Regions from separate parts of the Homo sapiens genome. Here region 1 is linked to region 2. The links come from fine-mapping of genetic effects on gene expression. A gene starts in region 2. The other region holds a variant in brackets. All regions are shown on one strand. Distances are between the middles of the regions.

Region 1 (11,356 bases), 610 kb after region 2:
TGAAGAAGAAATGGGGAAAAATTGTGAGGTTGAAGACAGGGCATTGCACAATAAGAGTGCTCAACAATTTGGATTGAAACATTGAATTGCCAAACTGGCAAAAATAATCATGTTGTAATATCAGGCAGAGACTATTATTCCTATTCATTTGTCTTTGCTTCTTGTGTATGGTTCTGAACTAACAACTGAACTGCAATAGCTCTTTCTCTCTTTAATGATTATACCTCCAGAATCACTTATTTGCACAAAATGTTTAATGAAAGCCTAACATATAACGGGTTCTGTATTGGGAACCACTCATTCAAGGATAAATAGTATAACCCCATTTTTGATCACTCTGATATAATGTAGGACACAATTACATACAAACAAAAAATTATAGCAGAGACTTAAATACCAACCGAATCATGATGTGCTGAGGTACTATATTCCTTGCATCACAAATGGTCCCACTAATATAAACATCAGAGGGCATTTGATTGATATTTATATTGAAAATAATGCATTTATTTCTTACACATCTAAAATAAAAACTTTCTGTATCAGAAAACTTCCTTCTCTGCTATTCTATGTTAACTGATGGGTAGCTGTTTAATTAATTTTGTTCCAGAAGAACTGTGATTGAGTCCGTCTTGCATTTAAAATATAAAAGTTACTGCTGTATACATAGTAAAGAGAGTATATTAGTCTGTTTTCAGGCTGCTAATAAAGACATACCCAAGACTGGGCAATTTACAAAAGAAAGAAGATTATTGGACTTAAAGTTCCACATGGCTGGGGAGGCCTCACAATCATGGCAGAAGGCAAAGAGGAGCAAGTCACATCTTACGGGGATGGTGTCGGGCAAAGAGAGAGATAGCTTGTGCAGGGAAACACACCCTTATAGAACCATCAGATCTCGTGAGACTTATTCACTATTACGAGAACAGCATGGGAAAGACTTGCCCCCATGATTCAATTACCTTCCACCAGGTTCCTCCCACAACAGGTGCAAATTCAAAATGAGATTTGGGTGGGGACACATCCAAACAACATCAGAGAACTTCCTTTCATGTAACTTGACAAAAATATTAGGTAGAAAATATTAGGAAAAATAATTTTCTACTTTAAGAGTAAATATAGTTGACAATAAAACAAGAGTTTAAACTACATGGGTCCCCTTATACACATATTTTTAAAAAATGAATATATTTTGAAATTTTTTCAGAATTATAACAATTTGAAAAATACTTGCAGATGAACTGAGTAGGCTAGACATATCAAAAGAATAAGAAAAATTCAGATATGTCATGAATTCATAAAATATATGTAGATACTAGTTGATTTTATCATTTACTACAAAAGAATGTGGTACACAAATATACTATAAAAAGTTAAATTTTATCAAAATCTACACACACATTTACAGATTGCACATGGTACCATTTACAGCTGAGAGAAATGTAAACAAATGTAACCATGCAGTATACAATTATAACTGCATAAAATTAACTGTAGTCTATACTGTACTACTATAAAAATTTTGTACCCACCTCTGGTTGCTGGTGTGGTGAGCTCAAGTATTGCGAGTATCTACTTAAAACAGTGTGGTGTGTATGGTGCTAATCAGCTCCACGTGAGAAGTTCCTTTCCAGTAAATTATTTATTGCAGTAAAAAGTAATCTCTAGGGTTTATTTTTTATTTATTTATTATTTTTTTTGTGTGTGTGGAGACAGGGTCTCACTCTGTCACCCAGGCTGGAGTGCAGTAGCATGATCTCGGCTCACTGTAACCTCTGCCACCTAGGTTCAAGCAATTCTCCTGCCTCAGCTTCCGGAGCAGCTGGGATTACAGGCACCTGCCACCACATCGGGCTAATTTTTGTATTTTTATTAGAGACGGGGTTTCACCATATTGGTCACACTGTTCTTGAACTCCTGACCTCATGATCCACCTGACTCAGCTCGGCCTCCCAAAGTGCTGGGATTATAGGTGTGAGCCACCGTGCTGGCCTATTGTTTGTTTTTCACCATGTTTAGTGCAGTATCATAAACTTTGAATAACACCATGGGACCAGCACGAAGTGCCACTAGTGATGCTGGGAGTGCTCTCAGGAAGCAGAAAAATGTCATGACATAACAAGAAAAAGTTGAATCATTCGATATACACCATACATTGAGATCTGCAGCTGAGGTTGCCCCATTTCAGACAATTCATCTTGTAAACAAATGATGTAAATTTACAGTATCGATAAATGCAGTATAGTATAGTAAATGTATTTTCTCTTCCTTATAATTTTCTTGCTAACATTTTCTTTTCTATGGCTTACTTTATTATGAGAACACAGGATATGACATATAATACATACAAAATATGTGTTAATCGACTGTTTATATTATTGGTAAGGTTTCTGATCAACAGCAGGGCATTAGTAGTTAAGTTTTGGGGGAGTCAAAAGTTATATGTGGATTTTTAGCCACAGGGAATCAGTGCCCCAACCCCTGTGTTGCTCAAGGGTCAATTGTATTTATCATATAGAGAGAATCTTGTATTGTGGGTTTAAGTTTTGTTATCCTACTAAATATATGTTGTAAAGCAATTTCTTTAAATGGTTTGGGCTTCCATTTTCTTATTTGAAAAAAAGAATAATAATACCTCTGCAGGGTCTCTAGATTTCTCAGATGAGACAAATTTGAAACTCTTTGGAAATTCTTTCTCTCTCTCTCTCTCTCTCTCTCTCTCTCTCATTCTTTCTTGAGAGGGTCTTATTCTGTCTTCAAATCTGGACTGCAGAGGCACAATCATAGCTCAATGTAGCCTTGACCTCCTGGGCTCAAGTGATCCTCCCAGCTCAGCCTCCCAAGCAACTGGGACTACAGGTGTGCACCACCACACCGGCTAATTGTTTTATTTCTAGTAGAGATGAGGTCTCACTATGTTGTGCAGGCTGGTCTTGAACTCCTGGGCTCAGGTGATCCTTGAGCCCAGGCCTCCCAAAGTGTTGGGATTAAAGGTGTGAGCCACTATGCCTGGCCTTTAGAAATTGATAAAAGTGAAATATTGCCTTTGAATTTGGGAGAGTTCCATTTGTGTCATGGCTGGCTTATCCTGAGTAAGTCACTTTATCTCTAAGGATTTATAAAATGAAAAAGTTGGTCCATAAATACTAAGATTACTTTGAAAAATTATTAACCTATGAATCTGAGATAAAATCACTACAAAATACAAGTTATGATAACAAAGGACTGTATTTTCTGTATTATCAATAACTGTTTTAGTTTTAAAGTAAGCACTTTGCAGTGTGGTATGCTCCTGCAAAGGGTAATAAAATGGATCTGTTGGTGGTTAAATGACTCTTTCCAGTTTTTATTTGTATGGTGCCTCAGAAACTCCAGTCTTCAGTAACTCAAACCATCATGTCTCCAGTTTCAAAAAATATATTAGCAATTTCTCCAAAGAACCGCAACTAGCTTTTCCCTCTCACCTAATAGTAATCTGTGAATTTTTAAAATATGTAGGATATGTGAAGAACAGAATGGAATTAAAATTTAGTGGGTGTTTTTTTATTGAATTAAATTTAGTGTTTTTTTCTTGAAAGTCTCATCTCCAGAAGGCAGTGCTTCCAGGAATGGTTGCACACTGTCAGCTCATTTGTGTTGTCAGTGCTGCCACCTCGTTCCCAGAAGAGCATCTGTGGATTTGGGGAGAAAATGCAATACTTCTGGGAATAGTGCCCAGAACATGCAAGCTTCTGTATCATTTTAGAAAGTCAGAGAGGAGAGAATAAAATATTCACTTGCTTCAATGTTTTATGTACAGTCATCAGTTCTGGTACTAACAGCTGCAATATCCATATATTCTTATTTGTGTATTTTTTTTTTTACAGAGTCTTTCTGCAATGTAACTTTGAGCTTTTCTGTAGTTCCTTCTCTTGCAATCCTACCCCCCCGATCCCCATCATTTTCTTATTCTCAAGGGGATAACGCGAGCATTAACAACAACCAAAGGCACTGTTGACATACCAAGTGATAAGGATAGATGAAGTGAAAATATTATATTCTCTCAGCTCAAAAAGAGTACCTCTAATTATTACCATAATTTTATAGGTAATTTGTGAAATTACCTATATGAAATCTTAATTTTATGAAAGCTTAATCTGGTAGGTATGTAGTAATTATTCTAGTATTTGGGTATTTGCTTCCATGCACATTAGAAAAATATAACCAACACACTAAACATAGAATATTGCTTGGTTTTGCTGGTTTAGGATGATGCTCCAGTAAGCAGTGGCATAGTAATCTGCCTTAGGATGATCAAGTGAATTACAGATGTGGCGCTCAGAAAACCAATGAAGGGGTTGAACCGACAAAACTGAAAGTGTTATCATCGTAGTTTATAAGTATAGATAGTAGGATCATATAAACTGGAGGCATGGGATTTCATATACTTAACTGACATGTATTTTATCTTAGTTTTTTCTTCAGAGTATTGGAACTCCACTTCAGGAAGTTAATATTAAGCCTGCTAAATATGTATAAACAAAATAAGTATGTGTGCTGTTTTCAAGACACACACACACACACACACACACACACACACGCACACACCCCTTAGTTCATCTGGGCTGTTATAAGAACATACCATAAACTGGGTTGCTTATAAACAACTAAAATTTATTTCAAACAGTTCTGGAGGCTGGGAAGTCCAAGATCAAGGCGCTGACATATTCAGTGTCTGGTAAGAATTGTTTTCTGTTTCATAAGAGGCATCTTCTCTATGCATCCTCACAGGGCAGAAGAGGCTTGAGGACTCTTTTATAAGGGCACAAATTTCATTGATGAGGTCTCAGCCCTCATGAGCCAATCATCTCCTAAAGTCTGCATCTCCTAATACTATTGCATTGGGAACTGGGTTTTGACATATAAATTTTGGAGGGGACACAAACATTCAGACTATAGCAATACACGCACATCATATATATTAATATAATTAAAATATATTTTATATCTAATTAATATATATTAATATAATATATAATAATAATTAATATATAATTAATATATTAATATACTATGCATGTATGTACACATTCATATACACAGATACATATATATAGATGGTGCTGACTTAATGGTGGTTTGACTTACAGTTTTTTAACTTTACAATGGGTTTGTTGGGGTACTAAAAGCATTTTCAACTTACAATATTTTTGACTTATGATAAGTTTGTCAAGACATAATCCCATTGTAAGTCAAGGAGTATCTGTATAACAAAACTTATAATAAAACATGTATGTAACAAATACACATAAGTTTTTATCTTTTTGTGTTAATTTGTTCTTTATTGAACCTGTTTTGGATAATATTTTTTTTTAAAACAGGACTGTTAATGCATACAAGTGGAAGTTACTTAAATATATCATGAGTGCTAAAAAACTTCAATGGAATTAACATATTCAGAATAATATCAGACATATAGTATACATATTAAATTGTAGCTGCTACTCCTACTACTATTAGCATTGTCAGGTTTGATTGTGATTAAATCTTTATGTCTTCAAAGAGACACGTTAATTGATAATCTTAGTTTTCTGTTAATATTGTAAAAGTATCAGCTGCAAAGCAAATATTCAAAATATTATGAAAAAGCATTTGAAATCAAAATTTTCATGAAGTCATAAACAAAAGCAAACTAATTCCTTTAGGTTTAGACATGCTTCTACATTCTGAAATGACCCACACTCACAGACACACAATTTGATATTATAGTGTCTGACCTCAAAGACTGTTGTAAAACTTCCAAAGAAGAAAAGAAAAAGAAAATGATATCCCAGAATTTTAGAAATTTTTTAGCATTCCAATTCAATAAAAATATAAGAATATTTATTTATTATATTTTATTAACTTGTGAAGCTTATAGTTTCTGGAGTCATAGTAAATAAACACTAAATATGCTGCGAAGACGTTTTAAATAATAAATTGGGTCAATACAAGCAAAGGAACTGGTAAGGTGCTTCTGTCAAAAGAAATAGTGTACTATAAAATTACAAATATAGCCCCAAACTGAAGGCAGTAAATATTTTCATGACTATAGTAAAATGTATTCTATTCACTGTCAGTTAATCCTCTGATGTTCTCTTAGTATTAAGTGTGTGTTATGTACGTGCTAAACACTGAGACCATGGAGACCTTTTGTTCTGCCAGTCTTTGCCAATGAGTACAACTGGAGTAGGGATTTTAAAACTTACTGATGGCGGGGCGTGGTGGCTCACGCGTGTAATCCCAGCACTTTGGGAGGCCAACGTGGGTGGATCACCTGAGGTCAGGAGTTCGAGAACAGCCTGGCCAACGTGGTGAAACCCCATCTCTACTAAAAATACAAAAATTAACTGGGCGTGGTGGCTGGTGCCTGTAATCCTAGCTAATCAGCAGGCTGAGGCAGGAGAATCGCTTGAACCTGGGAGGCGGAGATTGCATCTAGCCGAGATCGCGCCATTGCACTCCAGCCTGGGCAACAAGAGCACGACTCTGTCTCAAAAAAACAAAACAAAACAAAAAAACCTA[C/T]TGATAAGTTCATGACATAATCTGGAAGTGACTTATTGGGATAAGCATGAAAGGCACTACATTCACAGTTGATGCACAATGAGGGCTTGTTCCACATAGTCAAACCGTATCACAGGAAGTAATGTCCTGGTATCCTACACCCACCATCCTCTACCCCACACCACCCAGACATGCAAGAAAAGCGTACTTAAAGTTGTAAAAATATATCAATCATAGTAAAGAGAGGCCATTGAACTCTTGAAATATTTTCTAATATTTATCTAGAAATGGGAAATTACGAGAAACATAGTTTTGTAGTGAAATCTATTTTTTTTAAATGCTGCAAAATCCATCCTTTTCTATTTGAGGCAAAATAACAACTTTCGTTTTCTGGCTAAAACCTTTAATACGTTGTGATGTATGCATCACTAGGGACTGCCTTTTATATCAGGATATTTTTCAGAGCTGTCAGCACAATTGGACAACCTTACAAAATTCATTTGTATCAGTTTTCCAAGTGAAAGAGTAAATTAATTAATGACAAAATTGGAGCATCAGTCATCAAGCCATGATCATGGCATGTTAGATTATTTTACGTGTCAGAATGACTTAGTTATTAACTTATTTAAAAATAGTTGTTGAAAAGTATTTTGACCATTATAAAGACATCATTGAAGGATAACAAAAGTAAGTGGCCTTCACACATAATTTCCCGGATGAACACCACTTCTGTATTGCTGAGACATGCTCTTGTTCCCTGGTATTTCACACATTACCAGATTACTTGACACATTCAGAAGAACAAAATTTAGAGAACACCTCAGATTTTTTTTAAAGGAAATTTTCTTATGCAAAGTCATTTATCTTATTTTCACTAATAATGAATTATCTATACCATAAATTAATACAAAAGAACTCGGTGCTTCCAATTTCCAAATATGTACATTTTCAGTTGAGATTATCATTAATAGGCTAATATTAAAAGCAATGGAATTGTTCTACTATATTAAGCTTCATATTAATGTTAATTAAGTTTCAAAGATTCAAAATCTATTATTTGGTGATAATAAACATGTTATTCTGTTTGAAAAATTAATTATTAGGCATGCAATTATTACATTGATTAAATTAATGGCTAATTTTTTTGGTTGATTTAAAAATTTTTTAATATTAAATAATATTCTGACATAATGGTATTAATTATTACAATGATCATAAAAATGTTCTTTTTAAATCATTTATTAATCACAAAAAGAAAAGCAATATAAAAATAAATAGTAAAGCTGGTAAACAAATAAGGCACAAAAACATAAGCATAATATGTAAATGACTTACTTTTGAGAACTACTACATTAAATTTAAACATCTTAATGAGAGATAGAAGGATATATCTTTCTTAACTTTTAATCAGTTTAAATATATGATTTAGCATCCATGATAAAAGAAATTCTAGTATAGCATCAAGTAGCTAAAGTAGTTGGATAACTAAGTTTATATACAGTTTCACTAAAATGTTTGTCATTGGACAGACAGAATCTTGTTAAAAAAACGATTTTGGCATAATATTGTAAAGCATATAAATCTTTGATTCTCATTTGTTAATTAGTCTTTATTATAGTTTAAAAATCTGCAAAGAAGTCAACAGTACTTCAGTTAATGTTATGTATCTATTGCTATTGGTGATAAAAACGTAACTAATACTTTGTTTCAAAACAAATTATACGTATTATTCTGGTGGCATTTGGGAGATATAGTTTTCTATGCTCTGGAAACAAATGTCTTGATTTAGAAACCTAAAAAAATTTCCTTAGAAATGTAGAAATATTTCCAGTTCTTGGGAACAACTGTTCCAAGTATTTGAGACTAAGACAAGTGACTGTTGCCACATTTGGTTATTAGACAGATTTTATTAATAAACCTACACGCCCAACCTACACATCACATTTGGTATCAAATGTCAGGACAGGCTGTGACAATAGAGGGACACTTGGGAGAATAGCCACTTTTTGGAACTACAAACCATGATTTGGTACTCCAAGAAAAACGCAACTGCTGAGTAAATCAACTACTTCCCTTAGGAAGAAACTCCTACCCAGAGAGGCACAAGTTAAACTGCATGTGAAGAAATGTACTATCAATGTTTGAAAGAAAGGAAGTACCTATAGAACAGCTAGTCAATCTCTACTTGTGATGGAATCTAGATTTATCTGATTGTTGACTATGGGAAAGTAAATAGTGACCCCAGGCATTCAGGATCATTTCACCTCTTTTCTCCTAAATAGAATCTCAGGCCATAGCTCATACCTCAAACATTTGTCCCAAGAATGGATTGTTGACTTTGCAGACTTTACTAGAGGGCTCTGATATTTAAGAGGCTTGCCTTATAAGGACAAAGAGAGAGAGAGATGATTTTGGGTTTTTAGCTTACATTATTCAGACATCCAAGTATTTATATGCCCCAAAATGTCATGACACATTTATTTCTTTTTATTGATACTATAATCCCAAGACAATTAAAAGTTTCACCAAATTCATTGCTTAGATACCAGTGATTTAACAGTATCTTCTATAATTTCTTTTGGTGATATTTGTTTGTATATGACTCAGAGTATAAATGTCCACAATTTTGAAATATTTGAGCCAAAAGGGGCCTCACGAATCTTTTAATTTAACTTGTTTATTTTATAATGGTGAACTTTAAGAGCTTTTTAAAACATATTGCAGTAATTAGTATTATAGCTAGCTCTAAAACCTACATCTTCCAATTCCCAAACCAATGTTTACATTCCCAAAGGGTTTTTTATACCGCTGAATTTTTTTTTTATTTATATTAGTAATTTGGCCACATATTTTGTTATGTAACCAGTTAGAAGTAATAGTATTATGTAGAAATCACTTCACTAAGGGTTTTGAACATCATCAAAAGAGGTACTTAAAATGCTTGGTGGTTGAAAAGATACAGATTTCTGTGTGTGCATTTATAAAGCTACCTACCAATATTCAGGTGTATGTGATGTATCAGAAACAGGAATAAGTGATTGACATATGATGAGTTTAAAGAGTAGTTGATAGAAGTGACATGAAAGTAAAGAGACAGAGCATGTGTGAGCATTCCCTATGTGCCAGAAATTGTATATCCACTAGATCATGTTTTATGAGGTCAACACTGCTAATAAAAAAAGCTACCATATTTTGGATTGGATATTATATATTAGTCATTTTACGAATAAGATCATTCAATTTCCATAAAAAACATTTTTGTTTCTTTTTTCCAGATACAAAATTGTGTCAACAAAAAGAATCAAACTCTGTAAAATATTTGAAGAGATTTATTTCGAGCCAAATATGAGTGACCATGGCCCAAGGCACAGTCTCAAGAAGCCCTTAGAATATGTGCCCAAGGTGGTCAGGCTGCAGCATGGTTTTACACACTTTAGGGAGACATAAGACATCAATCAATACATGTAAGTTATATATCAGGTTGGGAGTGGGGTGGCAGTTTGGGGAGGTTTCTAGGTTATAGGTGGATTCAAAGATTTTCTGATTGGCAATTGGTTGAAAGAGAACAATTATCACTTAAAGACCTGGAATCAATGAAAGGGAGCGTCTGGGTTAAGACAAGGAGTTGTGGAGACCAAGGTTCTTTTTATACAGATAAAGCATCCAGGTGGCAGGCCTCAGAGAGAATAGATTATAAATGTTTCTTTTTAGACTTATAAAGGTGTCAGACTCTTAGTTAATTCTCCTCCTGGATCACAGAAAAGACCTGGAAGAGGAAAAGGATTCTGTGCAGAATGTACATTTTCCCTGCAAAAGACAGTTTTGCAATACCATTTCAAAATATGTCAAATAAATATACTTTGAGATAAAATATTTCCATGTTTTTTAGGGCCTGCTATCTGTCATGCTGATATTTTTTTGATACAAAGACACCACTGTCAGTTTTAAGGTCTCTGTTTTAATGTTAATGCTGGTCGGTTGTGCCTGCATTCCAAAGGGAGGAGGTTATAATGAGGCATGTTGGTGGGGAGGTGCGGGGGGCTGCGGGGGCAAGGGGACACCTATTCCCACAGGGCCTGAACTAGCTTTTCAGGTTATCTTTGAAATGCCCTTGGCAAAAGAGGGGTCCATTCAGTAGGTTTATGGGCTTAGAATTTTATTTTTTGGTTTATCATTGTGTTTTAGGCCATTCTTGCATTGTTATAAAGAAATACCTGAGGCTGGGTAATTTATAAAGAAAATAGGTTTAATTGGCTCATGGTTCTTCAGGCTGTACAGGAAGCGTAATGCCAACATCCGCTCAGCTTCTGGGGAGGCTTCAGGAAGTTTATAATGCTGAAAGGTGGAAAGGGAACAGGCATGTCACATGGCAAAAACAGGAGCAAGAGAGCATGGAGGGGGAGCTGCCGTACACTTTTAAACAACCAGATCTCATGAGAACTCACTACCATGAGAATAGCGCCGAGGGGATGGTGCTAACCCATGAGAAATCCACCCCCTTAATCCAATCACCTCCCACCAGGCCTCACATCCAACACTGGGGACTACAACTCAGCATGTGATTTGGGCAGGGACACATAGCCATACTATACTAAATTGTATATATAAAAAATACAGATCAGAAAATGTAACCATGGTGGACTGTCTGATTTCAGTCCCTCAGCAATATCCTCCACATGCGCCATGTATTCTCAATATACGTTGGTTACCATGACTGTCGAATTCATTATTTCATTCTCTTTAAGGTGTCCCAGCACATGGTGTCCCATGTCTGAAACATCATTCCAAATATACTTCCTATATTTCCACCATCTATGAATATTTCTCCTAATAG
Region 2 (11,356 bases):
GCAATTATAATGAAATTTCTCCCCCAAATCCTTAACATGTTATCTAGCTTAGAGGTCATTATCCACAGCAGTATTTGATATATCCTGCCACGATAGTAAAAATATGCAAATCTCCCAAGTTCGTACTGCAAAGGGCATTGGTAGGTCTAATTTTACCATCAATAGTGAAAGGAGATAGCTTCAGATGACCCTAAATAATAGGATGTACTGCTTTTAACCTATCAAGGGTCTTTTTCCCAGAAGTAATCCAGATTTTATAAAATACTGTGTGCCCCCAACTTACATTTTTGTAAATGTATGAAAATTAATGTAAAGTTGAAAAAATTCATAAACTAATGATCTTGTAAGTAAAAGACAAATGCCAGTTATAGTCACTGACTGGATCTTTTTATGTGTGTCATGACTTGTAAATCTCTGCTATATTGCACATATTTTGGCATGTAAACCTTTAGAAAATGAATAAAAAATCAACTGTCAATATGTGCTAAACTTAAGGTAAAAATCATTTATTCTGTGTTATTTTAAAACCTAAAACACTCTATTGAAATCTGAAAACCAGACAGCGTGTGAGCTAATAAACACTTAAAATTTTATTTTTCAAAGCTTCTTCTTTTTTTTTTTTTTTTTGTAAATGAGATTTTCATATCGGCCTTGTGGAAATGTTTATAGTTATCCAGTAGATAGTATGAATCAACTTAGTTTAGTTTCTGTGTGCTTCTTTTATAGATACACTGTAAAATATAGCTTTGCATATGATTTCTTGATTTAAACAGCACAACTTATTCTATGTCTTGGCTAGAAACCAATTAAATAACCACTGATGCAAGCAGTTATTACCTGCTTAAAAGGAAATCTGTGGTTTCCTTATTTAAACTGATGAGTTTTAATGTCTATCAAAAAGGCTGTTATTGCAATGAATAATTTAGTCATTTCAGTCTACTAAACATGTTAATACTACAAGCATGGATTTAAGGCTGTAAAATATATCTAAAGTTTCTCAGAGTCTCAAGGATCAGAATCATACTTGGAATAGTTATGCACAGATATGTTTACTCTTTCAAGTAATATATGTTTAAAGGACAATCGTTTGTAGTAATTATTTAGAAAAGGAAGACTGAAGTATCAAATTTAGCGAAAGGGGTTAGAGAAATGGTTGATCATAAAGGCCTAGAAAACACGTCTACAGATAGAAGACCCTTTTTAAAAAGATGAAAGGTCAATGGATTTAGAGATATCCGAGTGTCATTTCCTCTGTTTGTCCCTTGGTGGAGTTCTTGAGTTACTTTCTCCTTTTCTGTCAAACTGTTTTTATCTTTCCAGAACTGGCTATCGTGTTTACTGTATTTAACCTTTTTCTCATATTATTGTGAATACAGCGTCTATTATAAATGAAAGGCCCCCTGAGATCACATCTCCAGCATCTACTTTGTATTCTTAACCATAAACTTTTGTTGTAGTTACTTCTCTTACTGTCTTTTCTTGAGGCTTGAACTACATCAGGGACCCTGAATGCTATTTTTCAGTTCAGCCACTGAAATTTCTTAACGGCAAAACAGGTTTAAGCAAGCGAGGTTAGTAGGTAAATTAAAAAAAAAAAATCTACTGAATATTTTAAGTTTAGGGTAAGATTTCTGGCACAGAAAATGAATCGTTTGTCAAGGTTTTATTAAATGCATATTAGCACGGGATGATATTTATATTTTAATCAATTTCATTTTTTACATCTTGATTTCAAAGGGGTATTTCCTTTTATTGTTCTTTTTTAAAAAGCCACTAAAGAAAAAACAGAAATCTCCATTTCAACATTCCCTCAAACATTTTGCTTCCTACATGCGATGACGTCTAATCACTCTGATCGATGCAAGCTTTAGGGCACTGATCTCATTTTCTCTCTCCAGTTCTGGCCGCCAAAGCAGCAGCAGCAGCAGCAGCAGCAGCAGCAGCAGCAGGCTCTTTAATTTATTGCAGGCGGTTACACTTTCGATCCCATTTCCTTCTGAACCCTTTCCTCTCAGGTTGAGTAGATAAATGCAGCCTCGGGTCTGAGAAGCCGGGGGGGGGGGGGGGGGGGGGTTGGTGGGTGGGAGCGAAGCCGGATATCACATTCCCTCGGTGAGGTCTGGTACCGGGGGGGATTAAGTCTCCCGGTTCCATTTAATGAAATTGCTGAGCACTTGTGACACTGGCTCTAAGACTGCGGAAATGGGGCGGGGGTGGGAGAAACTGCTTCTCTCTTCATTCATCCTCTGCGCCGGCGAGAGGAGAGAGTGTCAGCCCCTAGAGAGGGGGCGGAAGAGGACTGGGAGCTCCAGCCGCCGCAAGGGCGCCCCGAGGGCTCCTCTCACCTCCCCCGTACCCCTACCCCGCCCATTTCCTTTGCTTGCCCAGAACGGCGCTGCAGGGCAAAGCCGCCGCCACTTCTTTGCTGCTCTGGCAGAAAGGTCGGAGCCTGGGACTGATGGGGGTGGGAGCAAAGCCAGCAGGCTTCTTGGCCCCCGCAGTCTGTCCTCGCTGTTCTCCATGCAGCACACGTCGGACCCATTTCCCACGCTGGCTTGGCTCCGCCGCGAAGTTGGTAGGAATGAGAGTGAGGAGGGCGGGCTGGAGACTTCCTCCCGCTCGCAAAGAGGAAACCACTCCACTGTGAAGGACGCGCTGCAACTCCCTAGTCATCCGGGAAGAAATGTGCAGCGCGCTGAGGAAAAGCCGCCCACTCCTTCGCGCCCCGCTCAAGTGTGCGCCTGGAGAGTGCGCGCCAGAGCCGCGAGCAAATGCTTTGAAGATGCGGAGAGGCTTATTCAAGTTTATGGTCTGGAGAGGGAAGAGGGAGTGCACAACGTTTCTGCCCAAGCGGCTGCCTGAAGTTTGCAAAATCTTAGTAAGGCGATGAGGGGAGTGAGTGCACTGCACCATATTGCCGCGCATCGGAATGCACGGCGCAAGGCCGCGGAGTGGAGACGGCTTCTCCCATTTGCCTCCAACCTGGGAAAAAGGGGAACCAGGGTCGGAGGTTTGGAGAGAGGCAGGCGTTCCGATAAACCCGGGTTCTTGCCAAATGTAAGAGGGATTTGGCTTTACTGCCACTTAGCCGGCCGCGAAGGCGCTGCGGAGCCCACCCCCGCCCCCGGCTCGAGACTGCGGCGGTGCGCACTGAGCCTGCGCGCGGGGCTTTTCTCGCTGATGCTGCAGATACAGAGCTGAGAGGTTCGGGTGCCAGCAGCGGGAGGGTTAGCGGGAAGGCCGGGTTCCCTGCCCTGGCCTCGGAGGAGGAGCCACCACCCCTGGGGTGATGCTACTTTCACAGACTGGAAAATACTCGCCAGCTCCCTGACACACACTTAGACACACTTCCATCCAACGGGCATCTACGATCCCCTGTAGGGAGAGCTTGGAAATCTCTGCCGCCTCTCCCTCCTCATTCCTGTTCCTGCGCCCGCCCAAACAACCGCGCGCTACATCTGCTCGTTGACTTTATTGGTGTTTGTCTTGTTTAAATCATTCTGCCTCGTCACCCAGGTCTCGTAAAGAATACCCACACTGGACAGATTTTATTTTTTCGGCTTTAAATTTTTCTTTGAGGGGAGGCCCTTAAATGTGTATGGATACGTCAGGCGAGCTGAAGACTAAGCAAATCCCAGCAGCGGCCCTTTCTCTCTTTCGAGATGGTAAAAATTCTCCCCAAATACCTACAGTCCGTCTCAGTCGTCTTAATCCTAGCCGGGCCTCTTCGTTTACAGCCACTGAAATAAATGAGTAAATGGCTCAGTTCAAAAACACAACCAGACCTGAGATCTGATGAGGCCGGCTGCGGTGGTCGTGAATGAAAATTGGAGAAGCCTTGCTTCAGGAAATAGGGACAGTCAAGGGACACAAAGTCAAAAGGAGAGATGGGAAAGCTGGGGACACTTTGGTACACAAAGTTGCCATTAAAGTTTATTTCCCTTTTATCCAGATAGGTGACGCTACACTTTGCCAGTTACTAAAGGCTGCAGGTTTCTGCTCAGAAAATAATATCGAGGTTTCCAACATGTGTTTATTCCCCAGGCGCGCACACACGGTCTACCCCCGCAAGCAAGCACGACGACAGGAATGTCAAGCATTTAAACAAAGACAGACATCCTTCACCCTCCACCCACCGCCGCCCCTGCCCCCCGCAACCATCCAAAGTCTGAGCTCCCAAAAAAGGATCTTTCTCCAGCTCTCTGGAGTTTGATGTTCTCTCTTCACTACTGCAGCCCGTCATGGTTTTTCAGAACAGAGTGGCTTTCTGGGCGCTCGTAGGTTCCCCAGGACCCCGATAACCATGTCCTAACCAAGATCCTAAATCGCGAACCGGAGACACTTTCCGGGGGGAGGAGGACGTCGTCTGAGAGGGAGGGAGAAGGAGAAACCTATCCTGACACCAGCTCCGAAAGCTCTCACGCGTGAACTGGGCATTAGTCAAGGGAGGAGGAAATTTACCAGCCCGAGGGAGGGAAAACAAGTCCCCCAGAGAAGACGGCGGTACTCGCTAGGGAGGGGGACTGGGCTTTGGCTTAAAGAGGACTGGCTGGGATTGGGCACACTTTGAGCGGCCCCTGGAGCTGAGGCTGGGCTTTCCCGAGCGCGGCGGCTGGCTGACGCTCCCTCCCGCCTCCTTATCCCGGGCCCTCCTCCCTCGCTCTCTCCTAGTGTGTAGTTTCGGCGGCTCGGCTGCTACTGCCGCCGCCGCTGCAGCAGCAGCGTCAGGGACAAGCCTGATCCGTGAGCGAGCGAGCACCCAGCAGCAACCACCACTTTGGGCAACTTGCGGGTTTCCTGCTCGCGGGTAGCGAACGGGAGATTCCCACTAGCGGTTCAGTGTCTCCGAGCCGCTGCAGCCCGAGGGGCGGCGGGAGCGCCCGCACCAGACTCTCCCAGACGCGAAAAGGGACGAGACAACTGCGGAATTCACCAGCCGTGCCAGGGCACTTCCGAGGCCACAACCGACTGACACTTTTTCTCCCCTTGGCAAACTGGATTTTTTTTTTTAAGCTACTTGGCAGCTGTCTCTGACTCCACCTCCCCCTCCACCCCCGCCCGAAAGCCTTTGGCTTTTCTTCGGAAATCCAGACAGAATTGGGCATCTTTGTTAATTGCCGTTGGGGACGCCCGGCCGTGCGCTTTCGCCGGCTAACGTCGCCTGTGCTCCGAGCCTGGTTTGCTCACCTTTGAACTGCAAAGGGATCAAGTTCAGCTTGAGTTCCCTGCATTGGGAAGGAGAGAGAGCGTGCAAGAGAGCGAGTGGGAGAGGGGGAAAGGGGAAAGGAGAGGAGGGAGGAGAGAGAGGAGGGAGGAGAGAGAAAGGGAGGGAGGGAGGGGAGGGATCGAGAGAGAGCGGGGAGAGAGAGGCTGCAATCTCCTCCCTGAATCGCGCACAGCGCTGCAGATCCCACTGCTCCGACATGCGGGCCGAATGCAGGTGAGAAAAGGCACGGACTCTGCGGCTGCGAACCCAAACTTGGGCACCGCACGGTGCGCACTGCTCAGCCTTCGCCCCCGTGGGCGAAAGGCTGCTGCGGTTTCAGGCGGCTGCTTCGTGACTAATGACCTTGCGCAGAGTTGTTAAGAAAAAAGAGAAACCCGCGCTCTCCGGGGTGAGAAGGGACTGACTCTGGGCGTCTCTGAAGATGGCTCGGGCTTCTCTTTGGCGCGCCGGGGGGACCCTGACACTGACCGCTCTGTGACGCGAGTAGTCTCCCCTGCACCGTGCCCGAAGCGACGTGCCGGGGGATTTTTCATTCTCGATCTGTTGACTGGCTCCCCCGCTGCATGAGCAGAGTCGGAGTTGAGACTGGCTTGTTGCTGGCCCCAGCGCCTGGTGCAGGAAGCGACTCACGTTTGTCTGGGTGGCCGGAGCCGGAGCAGAGCCTGGGTTTGGAGTGAGTGCCTGGAACGTGAATTGGACTCAACTCGAGTAGCAGCAAAGACCAGCGGGCTGGCAGGCGGGGGAGGCTGCAGGCTCATTCCCCACCTCTTCCCAGCCCCACTGCCCGTCTGCCGGAGCGGTTCTGGCCCCTTCCGACAGAGCGGGGACTAGAGCCGGGGATTCTCCGCCCGCTGAGGGGATGACTCTGGGTTGGGGGAGCGCCGAACCCGCGGCGCGCAGTGTCCCGTGAACTGTGAGTACTGCGACTGAACGGCGGCAGGCGAGCGGGCGATTAGCACCCATTGCATGAATTATGAAACAATAACTTTCGGAAGAAGCAGGAGGAAAAAAAGAAGCATCTATCGCTGCCCTCCCACCCCCATTCCCGGCCAACTCTCCACGCCGCTTTTGCCCCCTCCCTCCCCTCCCTCTCGCTCCTTCCTTTCCGGGAGAGGGGAGAGGACTCGGGGGAGGGCAGGCGGCCGGCCCCGGAGGAGGGGGGCGCCGAGGGGGCTGTGGTTAGAAGGAGCAGTAGCAGCAGCAGCAGGAGAAGATGCTGAGGATGCGGACCGCGGGATGGGCGCGCGGCTGGTGCTTGGGCTGCTGCCTCCTCCTGCCGCTCTCGCTCAGCCTGGCGGCCGCCAAGCAGCTCCTCCGGTACCGGCTGGCCGAGGAGGGCCCCGCCGACGTCCGCATCGGCAACGTGGCTTCAGACCTGGGCATCGTGACCGGATCGGGTGAGGTGACTTTCAGCCTGGAGTCCGGTTCCGAGTACCTGAAGATCGACAACCTCACTGGCGAGCTGAGCACGAGCGAGCGGCGCATCGACCGCGAGAAGCTGCCCCAGTGTCAGATGATCTTCGACGAGAACGAGTGCTTCCTGGACTTCGAGGTGTCGGTGATCGGGCCCTCGCAGAGCTGGGTGGACCTGTTTGAGGGTCAGGTCATCGTGCTTGACATCAACGACAACACGCCCACCTTCCCGTCGCCCGTGCTCACGCTCACGGTGGAGGAGAATCGGCCGGTGGGCACACTTTACCTGCTGCCCACAGCCACCGACCGCGACTTCGGCCGCAACGGCATCGAGCGCTACGAGCTGCTCCAGGAGCCCGGAGGCGGCGGCAGCGGCGGCGAGAGCCGGCGCGCCGGGGCGGCCGACAGCGCCCCCTACCCCGGGGGCGGCGGGAACGGCGCGAGCGGCGGCGGCTCGGGAGGCTCCAAGCGGCGGCTGGACGCATCAGAGGGCGGCGGCGGCACCAACCCCGGCGGCCGCAGCAGCGTGTTCGAGCTGCAGGTGGCGGACACCCCGGACGGCGAGAAGCAGCCGCAGCTGATCGTGAAGGGGGCGCTGGACCGCGAGCAGCGCGACTCCTACGAGCTGACCCTGCGAGTGCGCGACGGCGGCGACCCGCCTCGCTCCTCGCAGGCCATCCTACGGGTCCTCATCACCGACGTGAACGACAACAGCCCCCGCTTCGAGAAGAGCGTGTACGAGGCCGACTTGGCTGAGAACAGCGCCCCGGGGACCCCCATCCTGCAACTGCGCGCAGCCGACTTGGACGTGGGGGTCAACGGGCAGATCGAATACGTGTTCGGGGCGGCCACCGAGTCGGTGAGGCGGCTGCTGCGCCTTGACGAGACGTCCGGCTGGCTCAGCGTCCTGCACCGGATCGACCGCGAGGAGGTGAACCAGCTGCGCTTCACGGTCATGGCCCGCGACCGCGGGCAGCCCCCCAAGACCGACAAGGCCACCGTGGTCCTTAACATCAAAGACGAGAACGACAACGTGCCGTCCATTGAAATCCGCAAGATTGGGCGCATCCCCCTCAAGGACGGGGTGGCCAACGTGGCCGAGGACGTTCTGGTCGACACCCCCATCGCTCTGGTGCAGGTGTCCGACCGAGACCAAGGCGAGAACGGGGTGGTCACCTGCACCGTGGTGGGCGACGTGCCCTTCCAGCTCAAGCCAGCCAGCGACACCGAGGGCGACCAGAACAAGAAAAAGTACTTCTTGCACACCTCGACCCCTCTGGACTATGAGGCCACCCGGGAGTTCAACGTGGTCATCGTGGCGGTGGACTCAGGCAGCCCCAGCCTCTCGAGCAACAACTCCCTGATTGTCAAGGTGGGAGACACCAACGACAACCCGCCCATGTTCGGCCAGTCGGTGGTGGAGGTTTACTTCCCTGAGAACAACATCCCGGGCGAGAGGGTGGCCACGGTGCTGGCGACAGACGCAGACAGCGGTAAGAACGCCGAGATCGCCTACTCGCTGGACTCCTCTGTGATGGGGATCTTTGCCATCGATCCCGATTCTGGGGACATCCTGGTCAATACCGTGCTGGACCGCGAGCAGACTGACAGGTATGAGTTTAAAGTTAACGCCAAAGACAAAGGCATCCCCGTGCTGCAGGGCAGCACTACGGTGATTGTGCAGGTGGCTGATAAAAATGACAATGACCCTAAGTTTATGCAGGACGTCTTCACCTTTTATGTGAAAGAAAACTTGCAGCCCAACAGCCCTGTGGGGATGGTCACCGTGATGGATGCTGACAAGGGGCGGAATGCAGAGATGAGCCTGTACATAGAGGAGAACAATAACATTTTTTCTATTGAAAATGACACGGGGACCATTTACTCCACAATGTCTTTTGACCGGGAACATCAGACCACATACACTTTCAGAGTCAAGGCTGTGGATGGGGGAGATCCTCCCAGATCTGCCACAGCTACAGTCTCGCTTTTTGTGATGGATGAAAATGACAATGCTCCCACAGTTACCCTTCCCAAAAACATTTCCTACACTTTACTGCCACCTTCGAGTAATGTCAGGACAGTAGTAGCTACAGTGTTGGCAACAGACAGTGATGATGGCATCAATGCAGACCTGAACTACAGCATTGTGGGAGGAAATCCCTTCAAGCTGTTTGAAATTGATCCCACTAGTGGTGTGGTTTCCTTAGTGGGAAAACTCACCCAAAAGCATTATGGCTTGCACAGGTTGGTGGTGCAAGTGAATGACAGTGGGCAGCCTTCCCAGTCCACCACGACTCTGGTGCACGTGTTTGTCAATGAAAGTGTTTCTAATGCAACTGCGATTGACTCCCAGATAGCTAGAAGTTTGCACATCCCACTCACCCAGGATATAGCTGGTGACCCAAGCTATGAAATTAGCAAACAGAGACTCAGTATTGTCATTGGCGTGGTTGCTGGCATTATGACGGTGATTCTAATCATCTTAATTGTAGTGATGGCAAGGTACTGCAGGTCCAAAAATAAAAATGGCTATGAAGCCGGCAAAAAAGATCACGAAGACTTTTTTACACCCCAACAGCATGACAAATCTAAAAAGCCTAAAAAGGACAAGAAAAACAAAAAATCTAAGCAGCCTCTCTACAGCAGCATTGTCACTGTGGAGGCTTCTAAGCCAAATGGACAGAGGTATGATAGTGTCAATGAGAAGCTGTCAGACAGCCCAAGCATGGGGCGATACAGGTCCGTTAATGGTGGGCCCGGCAGTCCTGACCTGGCAAGGCATTACAAATCTAGTTCCCCATTGCCTACTGTTCAGCTTCATCCCCAGTCACCAACTGCAGGAAAAAAACACCAGGCCGTACAAGATCTACCACCAGCCAACACATTTGTGGGAGCAGGAGACAACATTTCAATTGGATCAGATCACTGCTCTGAGTACAGCTGTCAAACCAATAACAAGTACAGCAAACAGGTAAGATGTATCCCAAATATATTTAAATATCCCAGGGAGGGCTAATAACTCTGAGACAGATTATCTTCTGTAAAGTTTTGTCTTCTCGTTTTTAAAGTTATTAAAATTTTAACAGTAGGAATTTAATGTTAATTTTTGCACCATTAATTTAGCAAAGGCCATCTACAAGAGGTATACCACTGTATTTTGCAAATTAGAATTAAGGTTCACTAAACTACTGAAAGAAGTATTCAGAGTAGGCAGTGTTTGGCAGTTCTCTTTGCACTTGACATCCCTAATTCATACTACATTTTTTTGTTTCCAGAATAAATATGTGTGTATTACTTAGATGGTTAGTTTTCACCTGAAATTATTTTCTTCTGTGGCAACTAAGTGGATAATTACATCCAGAGAAAAAGTTTCTAAAGTTACTACTGGTGTCTATGCAAATTGGATTCCATAGAAGTTTTAGCTATGTTATTTACAATGCAGGATTTTACAGATAAATAGATGCTGATTCATGCAGATGTAGTACTAAGTCTGAGATATTGAAATACTGACTACTTTGATGAAACTGCTGGTTTAAAAATATTTACTGATATGCAAATGTCATGCAAAACTCCACTTTCAATCTTTTATATCTATAATAATCGATACCTATAACAATTAGTGTTCTATAATGATATGCAATTACCATTTGCATTCTTTCTGTTTGGTATTAAAAGTTTGCAAACAAAAATACATTGCATGAGCCATTTATTATTTAAGCCAAGTAATGAAAATATTCATGATTGATGTACTGTGTGCAAGACTATTTTGGTATGCATTATGATATATTGAGAATGTAAAGATTATGTGGAATATTTGACATAATAGTTTCTCAGTGAAATGTGGAAACAGTAAAAAATACATATATTCTGAGGCGGAACTTAAGCAAATCTGAAATTTATTTTTGAAAGTTTTCCTCGTGTAATATAGCATCCTCAGAAAGTTTACTTTGTATATCTACCAAAGTTTGCCACACAGCAAACAAGACCTTTTGGAAAGGACTGTGTCTCATGGTACAGCAACCTCAGCTAATAAAACATTACGTATTTCTTACTGTCAGAACCCATCTCAAGAAACACAGTTATGATTGTCAATCTAATTTCTATTAAACATGCTTTGCATGTGGAATGTGGAATCCGAGAAGAATTGAGGCAAAGGAAAAAGTTATTTTATAGCCTCATTGAAGATTATAGTTATAGAAAGAGATATGAATTCTTAATTGCTTTCATGATTATTGAAATTAGTATTTTAAATAAATATTTTCTGTATATAGTACTTTACTGTAGCTATTCAGATAAGGAGAAACAGTCTGAATATACTTTTATATCTAATAACAAATGCAATCCAAGAAAACACCAGTTCAAACTACATTTGCATTAAATGGCTTTTGAAAATATGTCCTTTGGTGTATGTGAATTTGAATTATTTATTTATTTTAAACCAACATTTGACATAGTGGAGTGTTTATATCTGTTGTATTATTGTGTTACATGGAGTGAGAAGCTGATTTTTGTGTTGTTTTGGTGCTTTTATTGGTGTTGTAAACAAGGAAGATTCTAGCTAAAATGGTAGCACTTTTTACAGATTAAACACTCAAAAATAAATTGAGATTTGTAGACATTTCTCTAGAAAATAGTAACACCTAATGCAAAGGAGTGTGAAGAGATCTGTCTGCAGAATATTTACACCTCGGTTCTTATCCTAATGGTACTTCT

Direction of the effects. Alleles are on the strand shown, and positions count from the first base shown. SD is a standard deviation of normalised expression in the study named.
For the expression in tibial nerve of the gene that starts at base 5,387 in region 2, C is the low allele of the variant in region 1 and T is the other (moderate effect, 0.55 SD a copy in GTEx).

The links. PIP is the estimated chance that this variant, and not a neighbour inherited with it, causes the effect. A credible set is the group of variants that fine-mapping cannot tell apart.
Region 1: its variant is the best candidate, but not a certain one, in a credible set for the expression of PCDH7 in tibial nerve (GTEx, PIP 0.88).

The regions. Positions count from the first base shown.
Region 1 is chr4:31,325,451-31,336,806 of GRCh38, forward strand. No RefSeq gene overlaps it. Among named protein-coding and RNA genes, the nearest start is that of LINC02497, 160 kb to the left of the region's middle. The variant C/T (reference allele first, on the strand shown) is at 6,544.
Region 2 is chr4:30,714,983-30,726,338 of GRCh38, forward strand. It overlaps PCDH7 (protocadherin 7), which reads left to right and starts at 5,387. Exons shown (of 3, transcript NM_001173523.2): 1 at 5,387-9,614. The coding sequence starts at 6,441. It overlaps LOC124900844, which reads right to left and starts at 4,139. Exons shown (of 1, transcript XM_047416545.1): 1 at 1,649-4,139. The coding sequence starts at 2,925. The coding sequence ends at 2,359. RefSeq lists an enhancer at 6,196-6,906.